Linked DNA regions of Homo sapiens. The protein of the gene in region 6 interacts with the protein of the main gene of each other region in a biochemical or structural test. Each region holds a gene or a part of one and is shown on either strand. Other genes may lie near its edges. The genes, in order: SLC15A5, DGKK, LPAR1, DGKZ, LHCGR, GIPC1 and ITGA6.

Region 1 (2,701 bases), on a different chromosome or scaffold from region 6:
TCTTTTGGTGTTTGCTTTGGGTCAACTTTATAATTCTGTAGATCTTTCAGCTCTAAGGACAAGTGAAACCACAATGAGCACCTTTTTCTATTATGATGTAGAAATTAAGGAGATGAAGGCAAATTTGTGGGGAGGGGGAGAACAAAATAAAGCAGGCTCCTTTTCTATCAGTAAGAGGGACTAGAGCTTCTCACTTGTACTGAGGTGAAGTGTTTAAAGATTTCTTGCTCTTGTGAGTGTTCATTAAACCCAAATTGCAAACTTGGCATTTAACCTTTTGCAGCAAGGAAAGCTTCTAAGGAATATTAGGGGTCTGCCTCACTGTTTTGCCAGGAAACAATTGCTAAACAGAAAGGATTTGAAAAAGTTGCAGGAAACGAATTTATGCCTGTACCAGCAAGTCTTTTCATTTGTCCTCAAACAAAAAATAGTTTGAGTAACAGAAACACCTGGTGCTTTACAGCTCCTCTTTTGCAATTAAAAATGCGTAGCATACCTAATCAAGTTGAGTAAATCTTTTATTCTACAGACCTAAAATATTTTATGTATACACAAGGGAGGTGCATAATTGCAGAATAATTTGCAGTCAGCTGATAAACTCACCTGTCCTATCCAACATGAATTGTCCTGGAAAGCAATGGCTTTTAAACCTTAGGGAACATGAGAATGATTTGGGTGTGCTTATTAAAACCACCAATTGCTGGACCCCAATCTCAAAAAAAGATTTGAGTTAAGGCAGTCTGTATAGGGGCCAGAAAGATTCACCTGTAGCAAGTTGTCCTCAACCAAATGTTGACAAATACTGCTACTGAGAAACAGACTTTAATTTTATTTGATTTTTTAAAAAATGAGTTTCCACATATTTTTGCTTATGAAAGAAGAAACTCTTAGAAGATAATTTTCTGAATGCATCTGAATTGGCAGTGGAGACCGAAAGATGTTATTCATATAATTCCTTTAAGCATCTCTATTTGGTTTGGTCACTTACCCTCCTCTCAGCCCCCTCATTTTATCTTCCCTAATTTCCTTCTTTCTTTTAATTCCAATAATTCCATAACTTACATTTATTTTTCAACTTTTTTAGTATGCGGACATTCTCTTTGTTAAGGACATCTATTTTAGTAATACTGCTTTTAAATTCAGAGAAAATGTCCTTAATGAAGTCATATTTTGATAGCATAATATTAACAGCAAATATAGAAAATCATGTATATGTTTATTATTTACTCAGTTATATACAGTATATGGTCACAATGTAATAAGGTCACGTGTAATAAGGGATCACTAAGTGTATTGAAAGAGAGTATATTAAAATACTGTCATTTTGCTTCTAATGACTCATTAAAACTCCAAAAAAAAGGTCATACGCTTTCAATGGCTGAACCATTGTAGAAAGCTGTAAGGTATTATTGGTGTATAGAAAACTGTCATTTTTTTTGTCATAGAGTAATCACTGAGACTTTGAAATTATTTTATTAATTCTAATGCTATAACATGTTAATGCAAAAGCATGACAGTTTACTAGAAAATTCATAATTAGTCTTTGTAAATAAAGTATACAGATGATATTTGTAAAATCACCTCTGTATATATTGGCTTTTACACTAAAACACATAAAATGCTCAACTGAAGAAGAAAACAATGAATACTGTTCTCATAAGACAGGTAGACTCAAACACAGTTTCATAGGGCTGTCTCCCAAAGATCAATACTTGAAGAAAATTCCTGTATACTGCCATAAAATTTCAGAGATTTTTCGTGGAGGAGAAGTGTTTCTTCAAGATTACTTCCACGGATGTTCTGGGCATTAAAATGATTTAGATTACAATATCTAAAAAAGAAAGAAAGAAAGCTTTTCTTAGGACCAGATGTAGATGAATTGATAAATCATTTGCTTCCCTCCTGCGCTTGTCTACCTTTTATGATGGGCTCATAGATACTGGCACAACAGTGACGATTATTTAAGAGCACTGCTCACCAAAACAGCCTTTTTAAAAGGACAAAAGGAGTTTTTGTGACTTAGTAAAGTGTCTCATAAGGACCTTTAGGTGGCGCTTTTTAACAACCTGCTACGCTGTCTTCAGTGCTGACAGAGAGATGGTGAGAAGGCTGAAAGCCTATTGACTTGACAGATTTCATGGCGGTCAGGATGCATAAGAGGTTTACTGGGAATTTGTAAATTCAGTGCTGAGATTATGTGGAAAGCACCATTGTCAAAGAAGGAGTCTATGAATATATTTCTAGAATGTGCACTCTCCATCCCCAACCTCCAGAAAAACCTGCCTTTCCAGTGTCTTCTAAGTACCAGCCCCATGCAAGGGTGGGATAGAATCATCCCATTTCACAGATTAAGAAACTGAAGTTTCCAAGAGATTAAATAACTTGCTTAAGGTTCATAGAAATAGTAGTTGGCAGAGTTTGGATTTGGAACCAGAACTTGATTATTCTGAATCCTGGCGCTTTTCCTCCATGGCATACTGCCTCTAAAGACAAATTACTTTCTTAAACACTTTCGGGTAAGTTCCAGCAAAATAGGAACTTCAAATTGCTTTATTCACTGCTTTATTCCCAGTGATTGATACATAGTAGATGTTCAATAAATATTTGTCAAATGAACAAATGAATATCGGCTATAAGTTTAATTTTATCACATACACATAAGTTTCAAAAATAGATGGGGTCAGTCATCTATTTTTGATTT
Region 2 (2,458 bases), on a different chromosome or scaffold from region 6:
TTGAAAAATGTGAATTAGTATTTGGAGCGATTTAGGAATAGTTTGTTTTCATGAGAAATTTGCAAGAAGAACCACAGGAAAGCACAGGCTTCTAGCCTTCATTTCTCCAGGCCCATGTTTTTTCTGATCACTTCAATGCCCCTCTGTACTCAAGGGAAAAGGGCAAGATGGGAGATTTGAAGGTGACTTGAGGACTGACCCAACAGCCTGTCCAGAAGATCAGGCCAAGATGGAGCTTGTGGGGAAGGGCCTAGGCTGTGACTTAATTGTCAGGCAGTCCCTAGTTCAGGCATCTAAGTCACAGAGCTCAAGGCCTGGTTGCTCCATATAGTCTTTTTATTGGGGAAGGGCACAGTTGCTGATGAAGAGTCTAGGACAGATAGAGCAAAAAAAGGCAGCATGCCAGCTTAAACCCCTTCTTTAGGGCATTGGTGTTTTTGTTCCCCTTTCCATGGCCTGGCTCAGAATTTTAAGGGGGCGTCAGAATCAGCTGGGCCATAGATCCCAGCCACCTCTAAGACGCTGAAAATGCACCAAAAGATTTAGAAGCTCCACCAAGAAATAGGGCAGTTGGTAGAGGTGTATGTGTTATTGTTATGTAGAGTAAGGGGGAGTGGGAAGGGATTCCTGGATTAGCACAATAAATTATAGGGTCACTTAGAGGTCGAGTTGTATTTTCAGCTCTTAAAAATATATATGCGTATGTATATATATATACATCTTTATGTCTCTATACATAATCTATACTGCAGCACAGCGGCAAAACATTTAGTTAAAAAATCCAGCAAGAATGCAGGCAAACACTCCGTGGAGGCATGCAGGCTAGGATCAAGGCAGCAGGAGGGGAGCCTGTATGGTTGCCATGAGGGGTGAGTTCCAACCAATGAGCCCACCAGAGCACCACCTGGACATATGCAGACATACAAGCACACATAGAAAAACGCAAAGGGTTTGCAGAGAGAGAGAGAGGTTACCATATCTACAAAAAGAGATTTCACATGGTCATCTTAACAGGAAAGTGGACAAGCCCCCAGGATCTAGTTCTCATTTTAATGAGCCAACTAGAAGAGATCTCCTGAAGGTGCAAGTTGCAGTTGGCAGGGATTCGGAGAGACACACAACCAAGTCTGGCTGTCCTGCCTGCCCCCTTCTCTTCATCTCCCTGGGAGTCTGTGTGTCTTTCATTCATTCCTTAGCATTGATAGTTTCTCTGCTGGTCAGAGAAAACCATTCCAAAACTCCCTGAAGAGGTGAACTCCCTTGAATCCTTTATAGATCCCAGGCCATTCATAAAGAGCTTATCCCAATAAATACTGTAGTTGCTCAAGATGCACAAAGAGAAGGAGAACTGAACAAGACAACTCGGAACAAGAACCTTTGGCCAATGAGGAAATGTAAACCTCTAAGGAGACCAGATTAAGTCCAGGAAAATGCATTAGTGAAAAGAATTGGAGGGTCTTTCTTGGTGGTGCTCATGTTTGTTCTGAAATGATTTAGTCTAGCCTGTATTGAGGTTTTGAGAGTTTTTTTAGTAGAATTCTCAATGTTGTGAGTTCTTCCAGCTTTCAAGGGCTACAGTTGAGATCTCGATGGTGTTAGAGGATCATCACCCTCTGCTTCATCTTCACGATGTCTGCGGTGCCATAAATTGCCTTCAGAGGAAAAAAAATGGTATAGAAATAATGAGGTTAGCACAATGCCAGATGCCCAAGTATGTGGACCCAAAAGAGAGCAAAAAGTCTGTTAGAAGATAGACTGGTTTGTTCCTATTGTACTAACCATCTCTGAATCATCAGGGAAAACCAGCTGAAACCAAGTGAGCTAAAGACAAATGGGATGAATTTTCAGAACCTGATAATTTATGGAACTGATATTGACTCTGTCAGAGTCTTTAGAAATATTTGCAAACACTATTGTCTCCCAATTGACAGACTCTTAAGGAATCAAACCAGTTCGACCATACCTGAGAAAATACAGCTCGATCCAAGAGATTCTCTCTTGGCATTCGTGCAAACTCTTAGTTCCTTGAAAACAAACTGCTACCCTCTGTCCCTTTCTTTTTTTCTTTTTTTTCTTTCTTTCCTTCTTTCTTTCATTTCGCTCCCTTTCTTTCTCCTTCCGTCCTTTCTTTATTCTTCCTCTTTTTTTCTCCCTCCTTCCTTCCTTCCTTCCCCCTCCCTGCCTCCCTCCTTCCCTCCTTCCTCTTTCTTTCAAGATGAGGTCTCACTCTATTGCCCAAGCTGAAGAGCAGTGGCATGATGACAGCTCTCTGCAGCCTCAGCCTCCCAGGCTCAAGCAATCCTCCCACCTCAGCCTCCCAAGTAGCTAGGACTACAAACGCACACCATCATGCCCTATTAATTTTTTATTTTTTGTAGAGACAGCAGGGTCCCACCACGTTGCCCAGGCTGGTCTTGAACTCCTGGGCTCAAACAGTCTGCCTGCCTCGGCCTTCCAA
Region 3 (3,500 bases), on a different chromosome or scaffold from region 6:
AAATTGAAATGAGTATAATTTAAAAGAATCATAATGGCTTAGAAAAAAGAAAACTAAGAATAAACTTGTCTTTTTTCTATCTTGCATGCAAAAAGGCATGCCAATAAAATTATCTAAGGTGAAAATAAATTCTTAATTAGAAAAAGACTTTTTTTTTTTTTTACCAAGTAAAGGACAAACTTGTACTGCATCCTACTTTTTAGTAGGCAACTAAAGCTTAAAATTATTTGATCAGACTTTTAAAACCTCTATGACAAACCTTTACGAGTTTCTCAAAGCGTGGTCTTTAGGCTACTGAAATTTCCAAAGTTCTTCTGGAAGGTTTACCTTTTATATGACAGCAATATGAGACTCACTGCCACTAGTCCTACAGTAAATTAAAACTATATCTGCAACTTCCCCCAGACGTCAAATCACCATCTAATTATTGTAAGGATTTTTTTCCAGATAACAATAGCTGGAATGGGGTGTTTCAGGGATTTTTTGTTCACCCCAGTGGGTATTGTTGAAATTTGCACCATTTCCTTCCTATCTCCCCAGGACCACCTATCAAGAGAAGCCATAGTAAACGCTCAACAAATGCTTGATAACCGATAAAACTACTTTAATCTGCTAAAGAAAAATAACCTAAAGAATTGAAATAAGCCTTGTCCTTGTTAAAATATATCAATCTTTTCACTCTAAAAGTGCTCTCCAGCTTATCACACACATTTTACTGGCATTTACTTCTACATTTAGCAATTATGCCTGAATACTGCCAACTGACTTCTCAGCTAAACTTCAAACTCAAATTGCCAGCCACCAGCTGAAAATCTCTGCCTGCATGGTTTTAGACATGTCTAAAACTAACAAGCCTCACTGCAACAATCATCATGCTCTCGTGTCCTGTCTGGTAATGGCATCAACATGCCCTTTTTTGTCCACAGTAGTCTCCAGTACCCTTCTACCTCCACAAGCTTCGAGATTGGTCCCACCACTTCCTGCCACAAACCGTCAATTTCAGGCACTCCTCCCCAAGCCTGTCACTCACTGGGTCTTCCTCATTACTCTTCTGCATGGAATGAGCTCCACAGACCATTGAGGCTGGCATCCTGCTGCAAGTCATTTCCCTCCTCTAAGGCTGACTTACCCTCTCCATCCTCAGATATGCAGACAGCTCTTTGTTTGAAACTTGGTTTACCGTATTCATCACTACCTACCTGATCTTAATCATTTGAGTCCATATCGCTCCATGTTCATGAGCTACTCAAGAGCGGGGACCGTACTTTCTTAATTTTTTTTTAATTTTAGTGTCCTCAGGCCAGGCACGGTGGCTTGGGCCTGTAAACCCAGCACTTTGAGAGGCCGAGGCGGGTGGTTCACTTGAGGCCAGGAGTTCAAGACCAGCCTGGCCAACACAGTGAAACCCCATCTCTACCAAAAAATACAAAAAAAATTAGCCAGGCATGGTGGTGCACGCCTGTGGTCCCAGCTACTTGGAAGGCTGAGGCAAGAGAATTGCTTGAACCCAGGAGGCAGTGAGCCAAGATCGTGCCATTGCACTCCAGCCTGGGCAATAAAGTGAGGCTCTGCCTCAAAAAAAAAAAAAAAAAAAAAAAAATTTAGTGTCCTCAGCCAAACGTAAGGACACAGAAGTTCTCCAAGATATCAGCTGCATGAAACTAAACTGACAGCGTCTCAAAGTGACCAGAGAACAGATTGTGCTAAATCTGGAAAAGTCAGTCATCTTGCCCTAGCCTTTGAACCTTTACTTTTCTGTGCCTAGTCAGAAAGTAAAGCAAGCAGTTCTCTGTGGAACTACAATAAATAGTGGGTACAGAATGAATGCCTCACTTAGTTGACAATAATCCTTCTCCCCACAATCGTAGTCCAAGAAGGCAAAGCATCCCCTTAACAAAAGGCAATTCTGTTTCAGTTGTGTTATTCTCTTAGTAAGAACACACCATCCTTATCATCTGCTGATTACAGACTTCCAAGGCGGGGGTCCTCACTGAATACTCCTACAATGAAACCTGCCTATAATGAGTAACTCTACCTATCTTCTCTGCTCCAGAAGTGGTTGAAAGGCCTTTCATTCAGGCCTTGTTTTCTACCTAACAAAAGGTTCACAGATGCCAAACACGTGCTCCAAAATGCCCCTCCTCCCGTCGTCTGAGACCCAGATGAAGCAGGGTCCTTGTGGCAATAATATTCTCTGCAATGCTTTTTGTCGTCTTGGTTGTCACACAGCTGGAAATAGTTTTCTTATTCCCGTTTACAATAGCCAGACATTCATTATCACTCTGACAAGAACTCTTGAGTGATGTCATGCTGCACATGCTGCACCAGTTCAAGAAGGGCCCATGCAGGCTCTTCCAGCTTCAAACTTCTCACTCTTGATGGCAGCCTCAAGTATAGCCTCTCTAAAGCAAAAGAAAATGGAGGCAGGCACAGACAGATACACACACAAACATACATATGAGTATGTATAAACATATCCACACTTATCCCACACACACATAAATATACATAAATATTAATTTTTGTAGGTTTGTATAAGTAAAAGGACAACTATGGAAGGCTATGGAACAAACTGATATCAGATGGGTAAGGTTAAAGTGGCAGAGAGAGATTTTTACATTTACTTTAGACACATCTATAGTGTTTGAATCATTGCAAAAAAAAATTTTGTAAATGAATGCAGCTACCCTCTCCTGGTTGGGATGCATTTTATTGTGTTTGTATCCCTGAGTGACTTCAAGATCATAAGTGAAATACATTAGTGAAGCAAAGCACCATGACAGGGTGACTTCAAAATAAGTATTAGCCAGATGCGGTGGCTCACAGCTGTCATCCCAACACTTTGGGAGGCCAAGGTGAGAGGATCCCTTGAGCCCAGGAGTTTGAGAACAGCCTGGGTAATGTAGTGAGAGCCCATTTCTTTAAAAAAAAAAAAAGAAAAAAAAAAAGAAAAGAAAAAGAAAGAAGAAGAAAGAAAGAAAAAGAAAAAAAATAGCCAGGCATAGCGGCACACACCTGCGGTCCCAGCTACTTGGAAGGCTGTAGTGGGAGAATAGCTTGAGCCCAGGAGGTCAAAGCTGCCGTGAGCCAGGATTATGCCACTGCACTCCAAGACCCTATCTCAAATAAATAAAAAATAAGTCTGACTTTCTACAGGCACTAGGTTTGAATTATTCTAGAAAGCAAACTATATACTGAGCAAAGAATCTCAAACACAAGTTGGGTTAAAAGTAAGAATAGGGAAAATGAGATGGAAGCAAGGCAGGGCTACAGATAAAACACAGCTATGTCTATCTCTAGACTTTAAAACAGATAAATCCTAGCAAAATATTTCAAGCATATAAAATGAAAAGGAGATTACCGGGCTCTGTGGTCTCCTTCCTTAAAAGGGAAAGGCCAACTCACCTCAAAGTATTGAGACTACCTTGGAGAAAATGTTCCTAAAATGGAAGAATAACAAGATACATATGCCTGAGTTTGAAGGCATTCTAAAAGAACTT
Region 4 (3,500 bases), on a different chromosome or scaffold from region 6:
CCAGGTGGTCTGCTTTGAGTGGGGCACTATTTGGGGTCATAAGAGCACTGCCCTGACCTCCCTGTCATCTGAGGCAGCTGGAAACTCCAATAGGCAGAGACCAAGAGCTGAGCTGTGCAGAACTCTGCTTCCCTAGGCACCTCCACCCTGTCCATCTCTCCCCCAACACCCCTGTACCTGGCCTGAAGCTGCTCAAGACCTGCAGGGCAGTAGCAAATCAGTGCAGTGTATGGAAGGAGAAGGTGCTAGACGTGCGGCCTGGGCCTGACTCCTCCAGCCCTTCATCTTTGCCTTCATCCTTCCTCCTGCCCAACATGCGTCCAGGGCATCACCCACCATGCCTAATTAATGCCAGCCTTCAGGGGACCACAGGGCTTCTTCTGTCAGCCCCAGGCAGCACTGTCCCAGGGCTGTGACCTTGACCTCTGTGGCTGCCAGCGGTTAGGATGCATCCCCCACCAGTCTCTCCCCAGGACCAGGGCCCAGGAGATCACCTGCTGTGGGGCACAGGTGGCCTCAGGTACCTGGAGGCATCGCCAGCCTGATCCATGCCAGGCAGGCTGCCCTTCCCCCACTGTTAGGAGAGGTAGGGCACAGGAGCTCGATGCTGGCTGTGAAGAAGGGTAGGCAGGGCTGAGGTGAGCTGGCAGAGGGAGCAAAGCATGAGTTCAGGATGGGTCCATGGAGGCCAGGTCCAGGTGGGAGCTAGGATGATGCCCACAGCTCCTGCCTGCCTGCAGGAGGGAGCTCTGGGCTGTGCAGCGTTTGGAATTGTGAGTATGGGGGCTTCCAGCATCAGGGCCGCAGAAGAATGTGCAGTCACAGGCTCCATCAGGAGCAGAGTCAGAAGGGTTTCCCGGCATCACCCAGCTTCACCCTGGGGTATCCGTACTTTGTCCCTTCAGAAAGGTGAGACAGAGCAGTCGAGCACCAGAAAGTTCTTACCATCAGCACTTCAGACATACAGGCACGCACACACCCAGAATCCAGAAGGCTTTGCTTTTGGCCCAAGCCTATTGTCACGGCCCCCTGGGTGTGAAGGGAGACTGAGCAGCCTCTCTCCCAGGAGAGCCAGACAGTGACTCTCCAGTTCCCTGAGACCTGGTCTCCCCTGAGCTACACATTAGACCCTCTCTATTTCCAGGAGTCACCTTCAGCCTGACCCCAAGGCTATGGGCTGAGAGACTCTGGGGGTCCTGTCAGGATTAAGTTCCTTTGCAGAGAGCCTCATTTTGTTATAGCTTGGTTTGCTCCATGTCCCATGAGGGGACACCTAACCTGCCCCCACCATGTTGGTGGCAAAACAAAGGCCCAGCAAGTGGGAAGCCCTGCCCTGGGCCCCACCGTCCATCCAGGCAGACCGACTCCCCATTTTCTTTTTGTTTTCTTTTCCATCAGCTTCCGGCAGGGCAGGTGGAGGCCTTTAGGCCCAGAGCTCTGTAGATTCTGGTGCCTGGATGGGGGAAGAAGGGGTAGCCTGAAGCACCCACCTCCCTGGGACTCCAGGGCTCCCTAGGGTGCAATGGGGGAGAGCATCAGTGCCCCAACAGCTGTAAACGTGGGCTCCCCTGAGCACCCCTGGGATCCTCACATGGAGGTCAGAGGCTGCAGTGACCCCTCCCTCCCTCAGGGGTTGCTTCCCTTCTCATGGGGCAGAGGCTGTGAATGGGCTCCTGGTTGCTTCCCTTCTCATGGGGCAGAGGCTGTGAATGGGCTCCCGGACACAGGACAGACCGTGGCCTGATCCAGCTCCTGATGCTCCCGGTCTCTGTGCCCAACAGCCAACCGCCTGCCATGGAGACTTTCTTTAGGAGACATTTCCGGGGGAAGGTGCCAGGCCCTGGAGAGGGGCAGCAGCGGCCCAGCAGCGTGGGGCTGCCCACAGGCAAGGCCCGGCGTCGCTCCCCCGCTGGGCAGGCCTCCTCCTCACTGGCACAGCGGCGCCGCTCCAGCGCCCAGCTCCAGGGCTGCCTCCTGAGTTGCGGGGTGAGGGCCCAGGGTTCCAGCCGCCGGCGCTCCAGCACTGTGCCCCCTTCCTGCAACCCCCGCTTCATCGTGGATAAGGTGCTCACTCCACAGCCTACCACCGTGGGGGCCCAGCTTCTGGGTGCACCCCTGCTGTTGACCGGGCTTGTGGGCATGAATGAGGAGGAGGGTGTCCAGGAGGATGTGGTAGCCGAGGCATCGAGCGCCATCCAGCCAGGCACCAAGACACCAGGGCCACCCCCACCTCGGGGCGCCCAGCCGCTGTTGCCCCTACCCCGCTACCTGCGCCGAGCCTCCTCCCACCTGCTCCCCGCGGATGCCGTATATGACCACGCTCTCTGGGGCCTGCACGGCTACTATCGGCGCCTCAGCCAGCGGCGGCCCTCAGGCCAGCACCCTGGCCCTGGGGGCCGAAGAGCCTCAGGCACCACCGCCGGCACCATGCTGCCCACCCGTGTGCGCCCACTGTCCCGCAGGCGCCAGGTAGCCCTACGGCGCAAGGCGGCCGGACCCCAGGCCTGGAGCGCCCTGCTCGCGTAGGTATAGCTGTGGCCAGCAGGGCGAGTGGTGTGACCTCCTGTGGGTCTGGCCTGGGCATGGGCCTTGAAGCTCTGCCTGGCTGAGGGTTCCCCACTTGGGAACACTCTGGGCAGTACCCTGAAGCCAGCGTACCCCAAAAGGCCATGTCTCTTGCAGGGAGCCTCTTAGTGTCTGGGGCTGCTGGGAGGCTCCTCCGCCCTCCCTGTTGCCGAGGTCACGGAAAGGGCAGAGGCCCCAGGAGGTGGGAGGAAGTAGGGTCAGCAAGTGCTCAGCCCCCTCCTCAGCTGTCTTCTCCTCTCTAGGAAAGCCATCACCAAGTCGGGCCTCCAGCACCTGGCCCCCCCTCCGCCCACCCCTGGGGCCCCGTGCAGCGAGTCAGAGCGGCAGATCCGGAGTACAGTGGACTGGAGCGTGAGTGCCTGAACACCCCTGGGTCCCAGACCCTCTGGGCTCTTGGCCAAGGCGCAGCTGGCGGGTGGAGGCACTAAAGGCAGCTGGGAGAGCCAAGCCTGGAAGGGTTGGGACAGTGGGGCAGACGGAACAGAGCAGGGTCGATCGGGGCGCTGGAGTGGGTTTGTCTTGGGAGAGGGCGGGTGGGCGGGGGCTGATGGGAGGGAGGGCTGGGCGGCCAGCGTGTGCTGAGCAAGCCCATCCCGTGGCTAGGAGTCAGCGACATATGGGGAGCACATCTGGTTCGAGACCAACGTGTCCGGGGACTTCTGCTACGTTGGGGAGCAGTACTGTGTAGCCAGGATGCTGGTGAGTGCTCGTAGGGGCACGCCGCCCCCTGCTGGTGGAGCCAGTAGCCGCAGCCCTTCCGGGAACGTGGGATTGAGCCCGCTCCCTGGCACCCCTGCTGTGGGCCGCCCCAGGATGGTGAGGGGTGCAGGGGCTTTGTCCGGATGCCAGGACTGGGGCTTCCCAGTGCACACAAAGGGCAGCTGTGCTGGGGCAGGCAGCCTCCGAGATAGACT
Region 5 (3,947 bases), on a different chromosome or scaffold from region 6:
TTAGGATTTTGATTTTATGCCTTTTTGCAATAAATAGGTGTTATGCCGGATTTTGGCGGGGGGGGGGGGGGGTGGGGAAGGGAAGTGTATGGCACAAGGACTTTTAAAATATACTTTTTCCTCTCTAAGATGATACCTCCCTGGAGAGCTGTGCCTTGGTTCTCAAACTTTAGTATGCATCAGAATCACCTGAGGAGCTTGTTAATCTGTAGCCTGCTGGACCCCACCCCTGGAGTTTCTGATTCAGTAGGTTGGGGCTGAGGCCTGAGAATATGCAGTCTAACATTTCCCAGGTGATGTTCATACTGCTGAGCTAAGACCATACTTTGAGAAATATTGCCTTGAAGTAACAACCCTCCCTTTGCTTAACATGCACCTCTCTTGTCATATGGATGTTGGTGTCACTATGTTGTGCCAAAAGTTACCCTGTTTTGGCCTGCATAGGCTCAACCTCCACAGAGTGACAAGGGCATCTCTTGAAAGATGAGGGCATCTCTCAACCATCTGGTGCTCAGGAAATGAAACCTTGTGAGGGTCACCACGCTTGGCTAAGGAGGCTAAATGACTGGCAGAGGATGTTCCTGGTGGTGGATGCTCAGGGTCTCTACCCCCAAACCTAGTCAGCCCTATCAGATATTTTTGAGGGGTTCTAGGATTCTTGAAACCCTGCTGAAAGGCAGCAGGAGAAAGTGGGATTTTTAAAAAAAATTTACTTCAGCCTTTTCCAGGGAAGGGGGTCCCCTCCTGAGAACAGCACGTGGCAGCAGGAGCCCTTGAGAGATCTTACTGAAAAGCTGAATTGAAAAGGAACTGGGACTTGGCCCACCCATTCATGCCCCCAGTGGGAGTTCTTTGCTCAGTACTAATTTTGGAGAAACTGAGTGTGTGTGTGTGTGTGTGTGTGTTTTATTAAGAAAGCAGTAGTTTTTCTTACAAAGATGAGCAAATTTAAAAAGATAATTAATAGATAAAATCCTGAATTGCTATTCAATAGCTGTGAGACCTTGAGCAAGTTATTCCTTCTCCTTGGATCTCAGTTTCTTCTAATCTGTATGATAAGTAGCAGGCAAGTGAGAAAGTCTGTTAGTAGTACAGTCATTCTTAAGAGCAACATGGCATGCTTGTCAGGGACGGACCAGGGCTGGAACTTGGAAGGCCTGTTGCATGGATTTGTGGATTGATTGAAACAAATTCTATCAGCATGGTCCATTCCTTCAGGGAATGGACCTGACAAGATAATTAATGGAAACTAATTAATATAAACCCCTCAACCCTTTAACTGTATCTCTCAACCACAATTATTCCCAGAAGGCCTTTAACTTTTCCACATGAAGAAGCCTGGCCTGGCAGGGAGGGTGAGTCTCCTCTATGAAACAGCCCGTGACAGACTGTTGGGGGCTCAAAGGAAATGGCAGAGGGGGTGGTCTCCTTCCTTCCCCAGCACAGAATTCCATCATCTCTAATTGTTAGGACATGATCAAGACCTCTACCAGCCTTTTAGATACTCTTGTCTTTTGTCTTTTTTTCCCTTTCTTTTCTTTCCTTTTCTCTTTTCACAGCTGTATTGAGATGTAAATCCTACACTATAGAATTTAAAGTGGACAATGCAATTGTTTTTAATATGTTCACACGCAACTGTCTCTACAATCTAATTTTACAAAAATTTCACCACCCCCCCGCCCCAAGCCCATACCCACTGATTAGTAGTCACCTACTGTCCCTCCCATCCGCTTCCCCAGCCCTGGTAACTACTAATCTACTTTCAGTTTATCTGGACATTTCATGTAAATAGTATTATAAAATATGTGGTACTTTTTTTTCTAAATAGGAGAAAGGAGACCTGATGACACCCTGATAGTCTAGTACTAAAGGCTCCCCTTCTCCTCTTTACCCCATTACTCCAGAAACAACGCCCTCCCCCAGGTTGCTGATGTATACAATCCCTCAATCAGGCCTGTGAGTGTGGAGGTGGTGCGCGGGTGCCAGCGGCAGGGCACAGGGCCTTTGGTCCATTAGACCATGAGACTGAAGTTCAAGCACATCTGGGCACGGTGGAGCAGCGGCTTGTGTGCTCACTAAGATGCCCGTGTGACTGCCAGCAGTCAGTTGACAGATTAGGTCACCCTTGGCCATAGGGCCTGAGCACTCCATTCCTAGAGGACCACAGGGTGCCAGAGCTCACATTCACCTTCCCTGACGTGGCTGGCCCAAGGCTCAAAGGCCTGTAAGACTTCTCTGGCAGAGACCCCTGCCAGAGGAGTTGAGGAGCGTCACACCCATATTCCCTTCAAGCAGCGGCAGAGAGCAGGCCTTCCCCTGAGGTTCCTGAATAGTTCTACTCCCCCGGCCACAGCCCCAACCAGGGGTAAAGAATGGGGCTGGGGCTCTCAGAGGCATGGGGTGGTAAAAACAACCACCAAGTTTTGGGTTCTCATCACCCTAAAACGTGGGGGAAATTTGATAGGGCAAAGCGTTTTTCTCCAAGCTTCCAGGGAAAGGGGGCCAAAGGAGTAGGGAGGGAAGGTGGCATAGAGCGATGGAGGGTCCTGCATCAAGGGCGCCGCGACGGGAGCGCTGTGTACTCACAGTCGAGTGAGACCGGCCGTGGGGCCGGGGCAGCGCAGGGCGCCGTCGGGCACGCAGTTGCAGGGCTCAGGGCAGAGCGCCTCGCGCAGCGCTCGTGGCAGCGGCGGCTGCAGCAGCAGCAGCAGCTTCAGCAGCTGCAGCGCCGAGAACCGCTGCTTCATGGCCGGCGAACTGGGCTTCTGCGGCTTGCCAGTGTCTTGGACGGCCTCTGAGTGCGGCCCGCACCCCTCTCCCCGCCCCTTGGCTGCCCTTCCACACACCCTTCCCTGCCGGCCCGCCCCTGCCCTCCCCCTCTTACCGCGCACCCCGCTGAGTCTGCTCTGCCTTGACCTGCGACAGTGCCCAGTGACCCAATAACCTCCTTCCTGCTACTTTCCCCTGTCTTGTCCCCTACCATCTGCAAATGGCCCTAGCTATAGGAGGTAAAGAGATTTAATGGCAAATGTTTTGGATTAGAGGTGGGGAGTTCTGAATTGAGTGAGTTGTGACGCTTCCCGGAACCCCTTTTATTTCATTTGTGAAAGGGTCCGATGGATACTCGCTATACCCACATCAGAAGGCGTAAGAGTGCCTGGCTCAGACATTTTTCCTCTCTTTTATCCTCAACCCCTAATCCTTTCCCCTTCTCTTTCACCAAATCCCTCCACTCTACAAGTAATCTTTGCCCATCCTCCCAACTACCCCAGTAATTTCTCTTGGTGGTAAATGCTTTCTTATTTATGGTATAGCTATTTGGCTTGGTCCTGTATCTCTTCTATAGATTGGGAGGTCCTTGAGAGCAAAATCCAATTCAGATTTATTTTTGTATTCCTTCTGGCTTCTACATGGTAAGTCCTCAGTAAAGATTTGTTGAATGAATGAATGAAACTGCCTAATACTGGTAGCAGCTGCCCCATAGAAGGCCCAGGATAGGCTAGACCTTGTAACAGGTGCTCTGCCTCACATCATGTTTAAGCTCCACATTGAACTAGCAGGGTGTTTGCGATGAGAAAAATGTCCCAAGAGGTATGTGGCTTCCCTGAAGTCACACGGTTTTAAAGTAGTGAAACCTGGAACTCATGTCTATCACCTACCACCTCTCACCAATGCAAAAAGCTGCTATGATCTACATACCAAAGAACTTAGGAGACAAAATTTTACGGTAATCATGGGGATCCATAATATCCCCTCTTTGATTTGATCATTTCTTCCTTCCAAGGATTCTGTTTGGATTCTGGAAATCCTAGCAGTTTTGCTGGAAGAGGTGGACTTTGAAAGCTGGGAAGGCATTTAAGGCTTTGAAGAGAGGAAATATAAGAATAGATTTCTTTCACTCTGAAGCCAGTTCTCAAGGATGGGCTCCTTCATTCACCATTCTACAG
Region 6 (3,500 bases):
TTTGGCCTCCCAAAGCTCTGGCATGACAGGTATGGGCCACCGTGCCCGGCCTGTGACCTTCCTTAACCCTCACACCACACTGTAACACAGGGATCACGTTATGCTACAATTATGCCCATTGAACAGATGAGAAAATGGAGGCTGAAAGCGACTACGCTTCTATTTTCCTCTCAGCCACAGTCACTAACACTGTGTGCAAAAAATTTCTGACTCTCCCCCTTTGGACCAAACAGGTGGATGGCACTTCCTGGCCTCCTTGTGACTGGGCAGATAAATGATTATTTCTGGCAAATAGGTTGTGAGAGGAAGTGGCACATGACATTTCTGGGCTGAGGCATTTAAGTGCTGGAGCCTCCAGAGATCTATCTTTCCCAGGCAGGGTGATGAGCCACATTTGATATGGTGGCGACTCTATGAGGCCGGGCCCTGAATGACTACGGTGAATGGTGCCCCCTGCTGAGCCGCAATGGAAGTGTAGCAGGAAGAAAAAGCAAATCTTTGCTGAATTCAGCCACTAAGACTTTTGGGGTTGTTTTCTACACCACATACATTTTTTTTCTGTTTCTTTCTTGCTTTCTTTCTTTCTTTTTTTTTTTTTTTTTGAGACAGAGTCTTGCTCTGTCACCCAAGCAGCAGTGCAGTGGTGCGATCTCAGCTCACTGCAACCTCCGCCTCCTGGGTTCAAGCGATTCACCTGCCTCAACCTCCCAAGTAGCTGTGACTACAGAAGACTCCTGACCTCAAGTGATCCACCCGCCTCAGCCTCTTGAAGTGCTGGGATTACAGGCATGAGCCACCGCGCCCGGCCCGCTTCTTTATTTCTCTCTTTCTCCATTCTCCCCTCCCTTCAAACAATTTTTTTTTTCTTTTTAGTACTTACTGTATTCTGTGCACCATTTTAGATACTGTCTTCAATAAAAAAAGCAAGATCCCTGACTAGGGCCACCATGTTCAGTTACACAAGTTGTGTACTGTGCAAAATTACTAGACCAAGGTGGCAAGTAGGACTGAAATTCGGTCTGTGCACTGCCTGCCAAGCTATATTTCTTGGTGTGGTGTCTGCCAGGAGGAAGAGATGCCTTTCTTTTTTTCTTTTTTTTCTTTCTTTCTTTTTTTTTTTTTGAGACAGAGTCTGTTCTGTGTTGCCCAGGCTGGAGTGCAGTGGTGCAATCTTGGCTCACTGCAAGCTCCGCCTCCCAGGTTCCAGCAATTCTCCTGCCTCAGCCTCCCAGGTAGCTGGGACTACAGGTGCACGCCACCATGCCCGGCTAATTTTTTTTGTGTTTTTAGTAGAGACGGAGTTTCACTACGTTGGCCAGGCTGGTCTCGAACTCCTGACCTCGTGATTCGCTCGCCTCAGCCTCCCAAAGTGCTGGGATTACAGGCATGAGTCACTGCACCCGGCCGAAGAGATGTCTTTCTAATTCACTCACAGATGCTATATAGGCTAGCTGGGGCTCTGCACATGACCTCCAGAAGTGGACAGTCCGGAAGAGGAAATGCACAGGGAGCAGGGAAATGTGTAAATGTCTAATATAAATTTTTTCCTTTATTTTCCTTTTTTTTTTTGACAGAGTCTTGCTGTGTTGCCAAGGCTGAGGTGCAGTGGTGCAATCAGAGCTCACTGCACCCTTGCCCTCCTGGGCTCAAGTGATCCTCCCGCCCCAGCCTCTTGAGTAGCTGGGACCACAGGTGCTTGCCACCATGCCCTGCTAATTTTTTTATTTTTATTTTTTAGAGACAGGGTCTTGCTATGTTGTCCCGGCTGGTCTCAAACTCCTGGGCTCAAGTAATCCTCCTGCCATGGACTCCTAACGAGCTGGGATTATAGGCATGAGCCACTGTGCCCAGCCTCATATAATTTTTAATAGTGATATGGAGACAAAGCAAGACAAGTTCTATAGACAAGATCAGTGAGGGCGTCTCTGAGCACGTGAAGCTGAACTTGAGACCTGAACCACAGGAGGAAGCATTCATGCAATGATTTGGGGCAAGAACGTCCCAAGTAGAGAGAACAGCCAGTAGAAAGGCCCTGAGCTGGGGCTGGGCATGGTGGCTCAAGCCTGTAATCCCAGCACTTTGGGAGGTTGAGGTTGACGGATCACATGAGGTCAGCAGTTTGAGACCAGCCTGGCCTACATGGCAAAACCCCATCTCTACTAAAAATACAATACACAGGTGGGCGTGGTGGTGCACACCTGTGATCCCAGCTACTCGGGAAGCTGAGGTGGGAGAATCACTTGAATGCAGGAGGCGGAGGTTGCAGTGAGCCGAGATCACACCACTGCACTCCAGCCTGGGTGACAAACCGAGACTCCATCTCAAAAAAACAAAGAAAAGCCCTAGCCAGGCGCGGTGGCTCATGCCTGTAATCCCAGCACTTTGGAAGGCCAAGGCAGGCGGATCATGAGGTCAGGAGTTTGAGGCCAGCCTGACCAACATGGTGAAACCCCGTCTCTACTAAAAATACAAAAATTAGCCAGGTATGGTGGTGCATGCAAACCTCATCTCTACTAAAAACACAAAAATTAGCTGGGCGTAGTGGTGCATGCTTGTAATCCCAGCTACTCCTGAGGCTGAGGTTGCAGTGAGCTGAGATCACGCCATTGCACTCCAGCCTGGGCGACAGAGCGAGACTCGGTCTAAACAAAAAAAAAAAAAAGAAAGAAAAGCCAAGCCCTGAACTGGGCATGCAATTGGCATGTTTGAGGAACAGTGAGGAGGCCTGGGGGGTTGGAACAGTGAGTGAAGGGGGGATAGTGAGAACATGAGGGCAGGGAGGTAACAGGTTGCTATGTTTTCCTGATTTTTTTTTTTTAATGGGGTCTCACTCTGTCGTCCAGGCTGCAGTGGAGTGATGTGATCACAGCTCACTACAGCCTCAAATTCCTGGGCTCAAGCAATCCTCCTGTCTCAACCTCCTGAATAGCTGAGACTACAGGTGTTCACAGCCATGCCCAGCTAATTTTTATTTTTTGTAGAGACGGGTCTCACTACGTTGCCCAGATTGGTCCTGAACTCCTGGGCTCAAGCAATCCTCCCGCCTTGGCCTTCCAAAGTGCTGGGATTATAGGCATGAGCTACCACACCCAGCCTGCTATGGTTTGGATAAGGTTTGCCCCATTGAAACTCATGCTCGAACAATCGATTGGCTAACGAGGTCGATGACGCCAGGCACAAGATGCTGGGCCTACCGCGGTAGCGTGAGGGAAGCCGTGCGTTCTGTTCCAAGGCATCTGTGAGCCCATGGAGTATACACCATGAGCAAAGCTCACCCTCCTGAGTTGAAAAAATTTACGGACAAGAAGTTTTCATTGAAATTAAATGGTGGCAGACATGTCCAAGGAATATTGCGGGGATTTGATCCCTTTATGAACCTTGTGATAGATGAATGTGTGGAGATGGCGACTAGTGGACAACAGAAAAATATTGGAATGGTGGAAATACGAGGAAATAGTATCATCATGTTAGAAGCCTTGGAATGAGTATAAATAATGGCT
Region 7 (3,187 bases), on a different chromosome or scaffold from region 6:
ACAATATGATATGTAAAATATCTGATTATCAGATTAGATTAAGAATAATTTTTAAATGGCATAAACCAAAGATTATTTCATGCCCCTTTCCCACTAATAAAATGCAAATCATGTCACAAGTATTTTACAAATTACTATTTGAATATGCCAGTGTTCCAACAGGTCAACTTTATAATCTTTTTCTCTCCTCTGAGGCTCTAGTACACATATCACTTCTCTCATTAGCCAGGAGGTCATTTATGTTGCCTGGATTTGCTATTGTGCTTCTAATTAAGCTATTTCATTAATCACATAGTAACTGTTTCCTGCAATAAAAATCATGTGCTGCATAGGACTTCAGAAGTGCATCACTACACTGAATTTCAGAGCACTCCCTAATTTCTCTTCTTTTGCAAAAATACATTTACCTTTAAACTGTTAATGTGTGTGTTTATATATATATATAAAATTCATTTAAATAGTCAATCTGATCCAAAGTATATTTTTACTGAGAATATATCTGAAAAAATTTGAATTGAGATTAAATTTTTAAATGAAATATATTTACTTTTTTTAAAAAAAGGTGTTTTCAACTTTAAAATGCAGTTTAGAAGAATGAGGATATTGATAGAACTGTTAATGTGTTTATTGTGTGACGTCAATAGTAACAGGACATTTATGTTGAATGATGTTATGTTATAAAAATGCCATGGAGCAAGATAAAATTATATGTATAGTTATCACTAAATCAATAGGCAAAATGGACCAAGATGTTTTGTTCCAGGTCATTTCTACATGGATTCATTTATTATTCTGTGCAAAAAAAAAGAAAAAAAAGCCAAAGTACCTATCTATTACAAAATATGACTGCTGTCTACCCCATTTAAACAAAGAGGGAAATTAAGGGTAATATGTAAAGCTGAATGGCAATGTTGTGATTCACTGTGATAGTGCCATGGAAAGGATTACAGGAGTAATTCTGTCCTCTCATGCCCACGTAAATGGTGAAAGGGATCACTAGCAATTCCTATTTCCATGTATTTCCAAATAAGAGAAACTTGAATTTAAAATCAACTGAGATCCAAGGTTGGATAAAATCTCTGGATACATGAAATATGGTCAAACTCCATCACAACATATTGCAATAAAAACTGTTCAGGGTATTTTTTGTACTAGAATTTTGTAGATGGAAGGTAACTTTGGTAAGGGATCATCTTCTGAAGTTGGCCATAAAAGCCCATCATGCTGATAATCAGTTTGTTGTAATGGTCTTTGACCTGTAGGAGACATGCAGGAAATGGAAGTTGCATGCTTAGCTAGCATAAAACGATTCCTGAGCAACAGTAAAAAGCATTCCAAGCCTTCCCCATCACTTTATAGCAAAGAGAACAAAAAGATGACAGTGAGGAAGCCTCACCAAGAGAAACACAACATTTCCAACATGCAACAGGTTAATTAGGCGGTCGACACAGCTTCTATCTGTGGAAAATTCCAAAATGGACAAGAAATCTAGAATGATTTCTTATGCATCTTTGAATTCCCTAGTGGAATGCTACATACCGAATTAATAACACATTGCAAACTGGGCTACTATGGAGGGCTAAAAGTCTCTTTTTGTGTGTACAAATATTGCAAATTTTCTTCATTGCTGTGGTAGATATTTAACAAGAACATAAAATAACTCACCTGCAACGAAAGACTGTGCATTAAAAAAAACAAAAACTGAGCTTTCAAGTGAAATAAAATAAAACAAATCCAAGCAAGGCAAGCCAGTGTGGACATTTGGAAACATCTGTTAATGGGACACACATAGCAAGCTGTTGTTCTTAAAGTTAGCCACCACAACCATAGCGGGTCCCACAGCTAGCAATTAAAAAACATTGATCAATTACCAATTACAGAAGTAGATCAATACTATGCATCAGAAGTAAGCCTCTCTTTATCAGATGGCTGAGCATGGATCTCAGCCTTGTGATATGTGGCATCATAATGATCTTTCTTATTTCTCTTGAAGAAACCACACTACAAGGAAGCAAGGTATTTAGTCAATTTTACAGTTTTGTGTATAAGAGCCAAACAACAGAACATCTCAAATTTTAATCTGCCTTCTACTAGTGGCTTGTTTACAAACAGACCACTTTCAGTCAACCAACAATGAACAGCCACTGCATTGTTTCATTGTCATATTCAATACACCCTTCACCATACATCTCTGGTCAAATATTTATATGGATGACACTAGTCAGCTCATTGATTTTTCTCTTTGTAACAGAAATCTTGTGGACAAAAATCATTCTAATAGGGAAAACGTATATACATTGCTGATTGTAGCTTTGGGTAGTTTCTTCCTGCAGGAGAATATGAACTCCAAAAGAGGCAAAAGATTGACTTCGGCAGTTTATTGAGACAAAGGTTAGAAAATAAATTCTCTAAATAAAAGCACAAATCCAAATAAAATATAGATATACTATGGGTATTTTTCTGCCTTTTACAGTAAATTTTATGGAACAAATGCCATTTACTTGAGGCCTTTGGATCTGTGGGGTGAATCACAATACAAATTCGAATACACCATCATGAAAGAATGATTGCTGTCATTTTCCCAAACTCTGAGCACCATAAAACCCTTAAATGGTAGGGACCCAATGCTCCTCAGGTTAGGTCACTCTAAATGAGTATAAAAGTATAATTCCACTTTCTACTATAATTTCCTTCGTTCAGTGATAGAGAACTTTTCCTATTTACTTTTATCTAGTTCATAAGGCCATGGAACTGTCTTTTATAAAATTTAACCTGGTCAAATAAAATCTCCTGAAAAACTCTGATTCCTAGTCCAGCAACTCATGAAGGTAAAAGCCTAGATTCACTTTGTACAATATATGGGAGCTGCTGGCTCCGTGAGGCTATTCAGATTGAAATTAATTTAAATTACATTTAAAACTCTGTGCCTCAAGTGAACCAGCCATATTCCACGTGCCTAACCGCCACACATGACTAATGGCTACCATACTGGATGCTGCAGCTCCAGAACATTTCCATCAGTATAGAGTTTTGTTGGGCAGCTTTCAATAATATGTGCTAGTAAATAGGGTGGGAAGAAGAATAAACCAGGAGCCAAGAGGCCTGGTCCTGCCTCCAACTTGGCAACATTCTTTCCTTTTTTTGAGACAGAGTCTCACTCTGTTGCCCAGGCTGGAGTGCAGTGGCA

What was found.
Region 1: the proteins of GIPC1 (region 6) and SLC15A5 interact in a test that uses a peptide from one of them, tested with the Homo sapiens proteins (one large-scale study listed by IntAct).
Region 2: the proteins of GIPC1 (region 6) and DGKK interact in a test that uses a peptide from one of them, tested with the Homo sapiens proteins (one large-scale study listed by IntAct).
Region 3: the proteins of GIPC1 (region 6) and LPAR1 form a complex in vitro, tested with the Homo sapiens proteins (one study listed by BioGRID).
Region 4: the proteins of GIPC1 (region 6) and DGKZ interact in a test that uses a peptide from one of them, tested with the Homo sapiens proteins (one large-scale study listed by IntAct).
Region 5: the proteins of GIPC1 (region 6) and LHCGR form a complex in vitro, tested with the Homo sapiens proteins (one study listed by BioGRID).
Region 7: the proteins of GIPC1 (region 6) and ITGA6 form a complex in vitro, tested with the Homo sapiens proteins (one study listed by BioGRID).

What each region holds. Positions count from the first base shown.
Region 1 is NC_000012.12:16,187,985-16,190,685, forward strand, and holds the end of SLC15A5 (solute carrier family 15 member 5), read right to left. Parts: intron 1,832-2,701; coding exon 1,684-1,831; 3' UTR 501-1,683; downstream 1-500. UniProt on the Homo sapiens protein: Proton oligopeptide cotransporter.
Region 2 is NC_000023.11:50,367,368-50,369,825, forward strand, and holds part of DGKK (diacylglycerol kinase kappa), read right to left. Parts: intron 1,653-2,458; coding exon 1,573-1,652; 3' UTR 1-1,572. UniProt on the Homo sapiens protein: Diacylglycerol kinase that converts diacylglycerol/DAG into phosphatidic acid/phosphatidate/PA and regulates the respective levels of these two bioactive lipids.
Region 3 is NC_000009.12:111,028,471-111,031,970, forward strand, and holds part of LPAR1 (lysophosphatidic acid receptor 1), read right to left. Parts: intron 1-3,500.
Region 4 is NC_000011.10:46,364,463-46,367,962, forward strand, and holds part of DGKZ (diacylglycerol kinase zeta), read left to right. Parts: intron 1-1,781; exon of another isoform or gene 1,782-1,794; coding exon of another isoform or gene 1,795-2,522; intron 2,523-2,828; coding exon 2,829-2,937; intron 2,938-3,189; coding exon 3,190-3,285; intron 3,286-3,500. UniProt on the Homo sapiens protein: Diacylglycerol kinase that converts diacylglycerol/DAG into phosphatidic acid/phosphatidate/PA and regulates the respective levels of these two bioactive lipids.
Region 5 is NC_000002.12:48,752,925-48,756,871, forward strand, and holds the start of LHCGR (lutropin-choriogonadotropic hormone receptor precursor), read right to left. Parts: upstream 2,801-3,947; 5' UTR 2,748-2,800; coding exon 2,587-2,747; intron 1-2,586. UniProt on the Homo sapiens protein: Receptor for lutropin-choriogonadotropic hormone. The activity of this receptor is mediated by G proteins which activate adenylate cyclase.
Region 6 is NC_000019.10:14,486,128-14,489,627, forward strand, and holds part of GIPC1 (PDZ domain-containing protein GIPC1), read right to left. Parts: intron 1-3,500. UniProt on the Homo sapiens protein: May be involved in G protein-linked signaling.
Region 7 is NC_000002.12:172,500,586-172,503,772, reverse strand, and holds part of ITGA6 (integrin alpha-6 isoform b preproprotein), read right to left. Parts: intron 2,002-3,187; coding exon 1,894-2,001; 3' UTR 1,872-1,893; intron 466-1,871; exon of another isoform or gene 1-465. UniProt on the Homo sapiens protein: Integrin alpha-6/beta-1 (ITGA6:ITGB1) is a receptor for laminin on platelets. Integrin alpha-6/beta-1 (ITGA6:ITGB1) is present in oocytes and is involved in sperm-egg fusion.